Linked DNA regions of Homo sapiens. The protein of the gene in region 2 purifies or fractionates together with the protein of the main gene of each other region. This does not show direct contact. Each region holds a gene or a part of one and is shown on either strand. Other genes may lie near its edges.

The links.
Region 1: the proteins of ATMIN (region 2) and WRNIP1 purify together in Homo sapiens (affinity purification with western blotting; one study listed by BioGRID). This does not show direct contact.

The regions. Positions count from the first base shown.
Region 1 is NC_000006.12:2,768,389-2,772,208, reverse strand, and holds part of WRNIP1 (ATPase WRNIP1), read right to left. Parts: intron 3,519-3,820; coding exon 3,327-3,518; intron 2,152-3,326; coding exon of another isoform or gene 2,096-2,151; exon of another isoform or gene 2,090-2,095; coding exon 1,848-2,089; exon of another isoform or gene 1,833-1,847; intron 1-1,832. UniProt on the Homo sapiens protein: Functions as a modulator of initiation or reinitiation events during DNA polymerase delta-mediated DNA synthesis. In the presence of ATP, stimulation of DNA polymerase delta-mediated DNA synthesis is decreased.
Region 2 is NC_000016.10:81,038,627-81,042,446, reverse strand, and holds part of ATMIN (ATM interactor), read right to left. Parts: exon of another isoform or gene 2,136-3,820; intron 1,092-2,135; coding exon 966-1,091; intron 167-965; coding exon 1-166. UniProt on the Homo sapiens protein: Transcription factor. Plays a crucial role in cell survival and RAD51 foci formation in response to methylating DNA damage. Involved in regulating the activity of ATM in the absence of DNA damage. May play a role in stabilizing ATM.

The DNA.
Region 1 (3,820 bases), on a different chromosome or scaffold from region 2:
ATCTTCTCAAACTTTAATGTGCCTGCAAATCACCTGAGGATTTTTAATAATAAAATATAGAAATTCTTCTCACAAGGATGAGCTCCTTGGCTGCCGCCTTTCTCATTTCCTTTAAATTCCTGCACGGCAGTGACTGGGGAGAGGTGAAAAAACCTGAGGGTATCTGAGTAACAACTGATTATTATTGACTTCATGTCATCAATATTAATTATTGATTTCATGTTCTATTTCATGAACTGATGACATGAAATCAATAAAAATCACCCCAGACAAGTACACATGCAGAATATTAAGTTGCAGATACATTACGATAACCAGTACACAGAGCAAAGAACACACAGAAACATGAAACATGTTAGGATTTCCCCCCTTTTCTTTCAATTTGTCTTTACCATGTGGTTCTATGCGTCTGTAATGAGAATTCTGTTACGGGAAACCTACACATGAGTATCCCACATCTGAAGTGCCTGGGACCAGAAGTGGTCTGAATTTCCTATTTTTTTGATTTTAGAATATTTGCATTATATACTTACCAGATGAGCACCCAAAATCCAGAAATCTGAAGTGCTCCAATAAGCATTTCCTTTCACAGCATCATGAAGGTGCTCAAAAAGCTTTAGATTTGGGAGCATTTTGGATTTCAGATTTGGGATACTCAACCTGTACTACATATGAGGAGCTGGCAGCCCCCTTAGGCTCTGACAAATGCCCACCACATAAAGCACTTCTGAGTATGAGTCCATGTGGCTGATACCACAGGTTCCACACACTGCTTGTGGCCACAGATGTAATGGCTATCCCCATCACAACGGTATTCCAAAACAAGGCCACTCTGTCCTACCCAGTGGTCCACGGGCCAAATGTTTCAATGCTTTCATTAGACACAGCAGAATTCTCCCTCCATCTCAGACAGGAGCAAATGGGGCCAGACACATAGGGAGAGCCTGGTGAAACCTAAACCCTGAGCCTAAACTATGCCTTGTACTTTAATCCTCACAGAAAAGTGGCTCCAGAACTTGGCCTCAGGGCAGGCACGAGCAGCTGCAGAGTCCACAGCAGGAGGAGGTGGGCAATAGCCTCTCATCACACCAGATTATGTTCCATGGCAGTATTTCAGCCAACGTATGAACAAATACCATCTGAAGAATATGTTCTAATATTAAAAAAAAGGAAAACCCCTGACCCAAGAAATCAAATTATCTATGATATACACTTGGTGCATTAACGAGCTCATGTGGTACTCATGATGCAGAAATAGGTCACTAAAAGGATAGGGACAGCCTATAATGTCATATTCAGTTAACATTCCTTTACTTTCATGAAACTGAGTTTCAACTACACAAAAAGGATTACATAATTTTAAGGTTACAAGTTAATTTTTACTTGATTTTTTTTTTTTAACAAAATGCTAAACTGCAGGTTAAAAAGAAATTGAAACATGAGTACAATGCTCAAAAGAGTTGTATGGTAAGTCTAGAAAGTATTTATCTATCTATTTGTTCTATTCAATGAGGGACATAAAGCCTTTCAAATCATCAATAAGGCTTCCCATAGAAGCCTAAGCACAAAAGCAAACACCCAAGAACCAAAACAACAAAGCAAAGTTAAAGCTTGAAGAATTATAGAAACACATATTAGAGGCTGGAAAATGCATCTTCAAGTGTGCAGGGATAACTTTGTTAGGTATAATCGAACATTTCCCTCCTCTTTTATTTTCATTACGGGCGGATCAACATTTCTTCTCTGTCCCCACCCTCTCCTCACTGACGCCCGGCCCTTTCTGGCCCCCTGCCAGGAGACTCTCTGGGAGGTGTGTGCCCCCAGGACGCTGCACACTGTCAACTTACTCTGAGCTGCTGTTGCTGCTGTGGCTCAGAGGGTCAGTGGGACGGCTAGAGTCTAGGACGTGGATTCCCAGGGAGTTGATCGCTCGCATTAAAATAGTCACCATTGCCTCTACTGGAAGCTTCTCAAGAACAATCACTCGACAGCGGCTCAGAAGAGCAGCGTTGACCTGGAAGGAAGGGTTTTCAGTGGTTGCCCCAATCAGAGTGATCGTCCCACATTCCACGTGAGGAAGGAAAGTGTCCTAATCATGGGAGGAAAACAGAAAAAAGTGATTCCAGTCAACAGCCACCTGCAGAATCCTATGTAAGTTGGCTATCCCTTCCTTCCTTTTCCTCATTTTTATCTTTCGAGTTCAGGAATAGCAGCAGCCTTATATTCACTGAATATAGATGCAATATTTGGGGGAGTACAACTCTTGCTTTTAAGTCTGAAACACATCTTCTGGAATGCCCGTCCAAGCCTGATCTCTTGCTGGTAGACTAATAGCTTTAAGTAGAATTCTAGCTTAGTTTCAACATAAATGATTTCTTTACTCAGAAAACCATCTTCTACCAAAGGCTGAACTGGCACATAGCTTATATGTAACAGCTATTTATTTATAGACAAGAACACACAAAAACATTAACACTTCCAGAATCTTCTTCCACAGCAAGCACTCAATCATATTATTATTATTCCTATTATGCTGTTTTATGGGGAAAAAATACTAAGATGAGTCAGTGGTCCAATATGAAACCTAGAATGCTAACGCCTCGTCAGAACTTTAAAAGGGTCTTTTTATTCAAAAAGGTTCAAAAAAGGCTCAGTAGAGTTTTGTGAAATATTCTATGTATGATTAAAAAGTTACAAAAAAAAATTTTTTAAAGTTATGCCTAAAAATTTAATTTTTTTTTATTTAGAGTATAGCTCTCAGATCTCAGCCCAATAAAATTTTAATGTTTATTTTTTTTTAAATCCCTAAGTGGCTTTGTTTATAAAAATAGCTTGTGTCCTTTTATTTCAGAAACCCATTTAAATAAACAGTAATCATTAGCTCTTCCAACATTCACCTTGAAGACAGAGCCTGGAGTTACAGAAAATACCGATTGTTTAATTTTCAAAATAAAAATACTGTTAAAGTAATTTTTAAAAACCCATTAAAATAATGACCTTAAAATCATTATTTTACTGTTCACAATGACTCCTAGTATTTAGATTAAAAATTCCTAAAACTGGAAATTTGATTCAAAGGTGCTTTTCTGATACGTATAGCTCAGGGATATGCCAACCATTTCATTTATCAGATAGAGAAAGCATTTTCTTGTTATCAAAAAACACTAAGAAATGTATGGAGAAATAGGCTTGAAGGAGATGGGTTCACAAGCCTACGCTTCTTTGTAAACAAAGCTCGTAAGTCTCTAGCGTTTGTATAGTGATCTCACACACTTTATATTGTTTGATGTTCACAACGACCAAAAGGTAGAAGGAAGTTAATATACCTGCTGAGATTTATTGAACCGATGAATCTCATCAATAAAAAGGATGGTTTTCCTTTTGAAAAAGCTCTTTTCATTTTGAGCTTGTTTTATGACATCTCGCACATCATTTGTCTTGGCATTTGTTGCAGATAATGTCACAAACCTTATGCTATGTTTCTTGCTGTTGCTGGCTATGATGTGAGCCAGAGTGGTCTAGAAAAGATGACATACATGGAGTTTGAAAAGCTGGTAAGACACAGAGAGACCAGCACCCATGGGAACCACCACACGCAGCATCACTATTTACCAAAAGCAACTTGACCTCGGAAGAATGCTGAGCAGCACAGAAACAATCAAAAATACCACAGGACATTTAAAAACAACAACAACAAAAATATTATAAATAAAACAGGAAAGTAGCTAAACCTTAGGCTAATCCTGACCTTTTCTCCTCTGTCCCTAACCACCTTTGATTCCTTTTTGGGTGACTCTTTAAGATCTTTGGAATCCCAGTA
Region 2 (3,820 bases):
AGATGTGAGACTGCAGTGCTGTTCTACTGGCGTAGGGACAGCCGCATGTGCACCGGAAGGTCTTGCCACAGTCCTCTGCATGTCTTTTCAGGTCCCATTCTGTACCGTACGAATTGCTGCACTTACTACATTTGTGCTTCTTCTCAGCATGCATTTTCATAAAGTGCTAGGAGGAACGCAGAAGGGACTAAGGTGAAAAACAGCAACTGGTCAAAACATTTCAGAAACCATCATACACCCAAATTAATAATGATTTTACACTATTAATATAAATAACATAAAATACAGCAGTCCAAGTCAAAAGAATGTAAAAGCAGGAACATCGCAGTTAATTATATATATGCCTCTTCTTGTTGCTTTTGCTTTGTGAAAAGTGAGGAGATTGTTTTGGAAACATCTATGGTCTCCAGCATTTACACTCTGATCTGTAAGTGCTGCAGGCAGGAAAAAAATGTCTTTACAATGCTCTTCTCAGGACGCCCTCCAGCAGACCCTCAGGGGAACATTTCAGATGCCAATCTCTTCCAGTTCTGAATCACCTCTTGTCCCAGTCACTGGGGCCCTCCCTCCTCTTAAGATTGCGGCTTCCAAAACTCTTCTTTTCCTGGATTCTGCAGGTTCTTATTCCCCTGGGAGAACAGTTCCTTTGTGCCTTTGCGCTGGGCCCTTGGAGGTATGCAGACTCACACAGGAGATCTGCGAGCAAACATTTTCTCATTCTTTGCTGAACTGGTTTACTCTCTCTCTCTGTATTTTAACTCAGTTCTAGACATATTCCCTCCAGACCGTGCCGCTTTTCCCTCCACTTGTGTAACAGCATACTCAGGTTTATACCAACTGGGAGACACGCAGGCATCTCCCCTCACAAGCAGCTGTCTACTCAATTCTGTAGTTATGTCTGCTAAGTAATCAGAATGCACAATAGGTTTTTAGCATCTGTATCTCATCCTCAGAGTAGAGAGTACCTGTTTTACGAGAGAAAACTGAGAAAACGGTCTCTCAGGGCCTCTGGGGCAGCCTTCAATTGGACAGCAGTAGAATTTCGGTCCAGTTTTCAAATCTTTTCTTATTGTTGGATTGACTATGCCATCCTGCAAAAGGAAAATTACTTTAAATTATTATTTCAAAAAAACAACACAACAGGCTGGAGTGGAAACGGAATGACTGAAAACGAGCACATTTTGTGAAATACTTTTAATTAAGAGTTTTTCCATCTAGTGTCAGCAGTAAGAGAAAAAGAGTATGAGTAGATTAAACGAAATGTGGTGAGAATACTAAGCAAGACTCTAAAATTCTGCATTCATTTGACCATTACTGAATTCCTCTTAGTCAATTTACATTCCAGGGAGATGCCCCCCTTGTATGTTCCTAGGCTGTGAAATGCTCCAGAAAACCACGGATTAGGATCACTACAAGATTCCTGCTCATTTCAAACACATCGTCAGTGAAGCTCGGTAATCCTTTCATTATCTTTTCCAACCTCCCTCATGCTCCCCTGTAGTGTGTGCTCTCATCATTGAATGCCTTTTACTATCTCCTGTCCTCTTCTAAGTGCCCCTTCGTTCAAGTCCTCCTATTTATGTGGATTTTGTCATTAGCCTCAATCTAATTTCTAGACCTTCAGTCTCTTTTTCACTCATACTTTATCAGATTCACCTTTCTCAAGTATAGCTTCGATCATGTCATTACCTCCCTCAAACGTTTTCAGCAGCACCCCCGTACTGTTCAAGTCCCAACTTTTTGAGCCTGGGATACTCAAAGTCCCTTACTCCATAGCTTCAAACTACTTTTTCTTCTCTCATTACTTCATTACACCGAAGAGAACGCCTTCTAATGCCCCCCACACCTTTACATGGGCAGAGATTTATTTGTATCTTCTGTTGCCTTTGGGAATGTTTTGAACAGAATAAATGTTCAATAAAAACTGGTAGCATTATACTGAATCTCTTCAGGTAGCCATCTAAGCCAAAACTATCATGCCTGGGTAAGAGACCACTGAAGACAGTCTAAGTGGATGTTAATAACCTCACTGTCATGGCAACAAGCTGACACTGTCCATGCTCCTGTTTTCTGAGAGCCAACACCCCACCACTCACCAGCACAGCAGCCTCCTCCCACCCCCACCCACTGCTTCTGGGGCCTTCTTCCCATTTCTGTCCTCAGAGAATAAGCTCAAGGGTAGGATGGCTCAGATGAGAAATGGCAATGGCACGATAAAATGGAAGTGCAGTGAGAAAGTGGTGTTTTCATTCTGAAGTTCTATATACTTTCAAGAATAAAATGCACTGGACTTTTTGTACTGTATCTTTTGTGCGCATAACTGAAAAGAGAACCTATGAGAGGAAACAATCCAGTAACAAGACAGAAAGAAAATATACAAGAGGAAAAGTAAGACACAGTTGAAGAGTAGAGGGTGAAAAGAAACGATTGTAAGAACTGTAGCAAAAACTAGGAAAAACTGTCTGTCTAGCTACTCTAGCACCACCTGACTGCCTTCCGAGAAAGCATCCAAGAAGGAAACGGTTTGCTTTGTCATCTTATTCTAAATTTAAAATTAGAAATCTTTGTACAGTATAGTCTATAGAGTAACTTGGAACCTTTCCTTTCCTTAAAAAATTTCTGGCAAATCATTAAAAACAAACCTCTGGACTAAAAATAACACAAAATCCTCTAAGCCATGTTTTACAATATAAATGTTGCTTGATAAGAGGTTCTTTAAGTGCCTGCCTGTCCCCTCCACTGCTTTCACACACAAGGAACAAAAGAATCTCTAGGAATAAAAAAATGTACATTTACTTCTGCTCTTCCTGCCCCTGAATCCTCATGGCTTTCATTTCTCCATGAATCCCACCATACACAAGGCTGGGCTAGATTTCTGGATTTCCTTACAGGATATGGAATATGGCCATATACCTTAGGCACCCACATCAAACCAGAAGGCGGCACATACTCTACAGTTTGCAATCCAATTCCTCATTCTCACCCATCCTCGTTGCTCATCATTTATGTTAAGAAGGGAAGATTTGGTTGGGGGTGGGGTGTTTTGGGAAGAAAGATTAGAATAAAATAAGAACCAACAGCAACTAGTGGGGAGGGGAAGAAAATATAATCTAGAAAATATATAAACAATGAAAGAAATTATGCAAGCAGCTGTAACTAAGACCGAAAATTTCCACTGACTATAAGAAAACCTGCCAATAAGATACTCAGGGCAGAAAGTGGATGGAGTCTCTGGTCAACACAGCTCTTAAAACCTAAGATAGCTTCCCAGCCAGCCTTCCTCCCGGTTCCTTGTCCTTACCCCTACCTTCTTCCAGTACTTTGAAAACAGGTATCAACATTGATGTTTGAGGCCTGGCGCAGTGGCTCACTCTTGTAATCCCAGTACTTTGGGAGGCTGAAGCGGGCGGATCACTTGAGGTCAGGAGTTCAAGACCAGCCCGACCAACATGGCGAAACCCTGTTTCTACTAATAAAACAAAAATTAGTCGGGCGTGGTGGAGCATGCCTGTAGTCCCAACTACTCGGGAGGCTGAGGCAAGAGAACTGCTTGAACCCGAGAAGCGGAAGTTGCAGTGAGCCGAGATCATGCCACTGCACTCCAGTCTGGGCGACAGAGTGAGACTGTCTCAAACAAACAAACAAAAAGAACAATGTTTGAGGCAGGGCATGGTGGCAGGAGCCTATAGTCTCAGCTACTGGGGAGGCTAAAGCAGGAGGATCACTTGAGCTCAAGAGCCTGACAGCAACCTGGGTTAACAGAGCAAGACCCTGAAAAGCCTTCTATGTAGTAACCAGACAAGGTACAGATCTCCATACT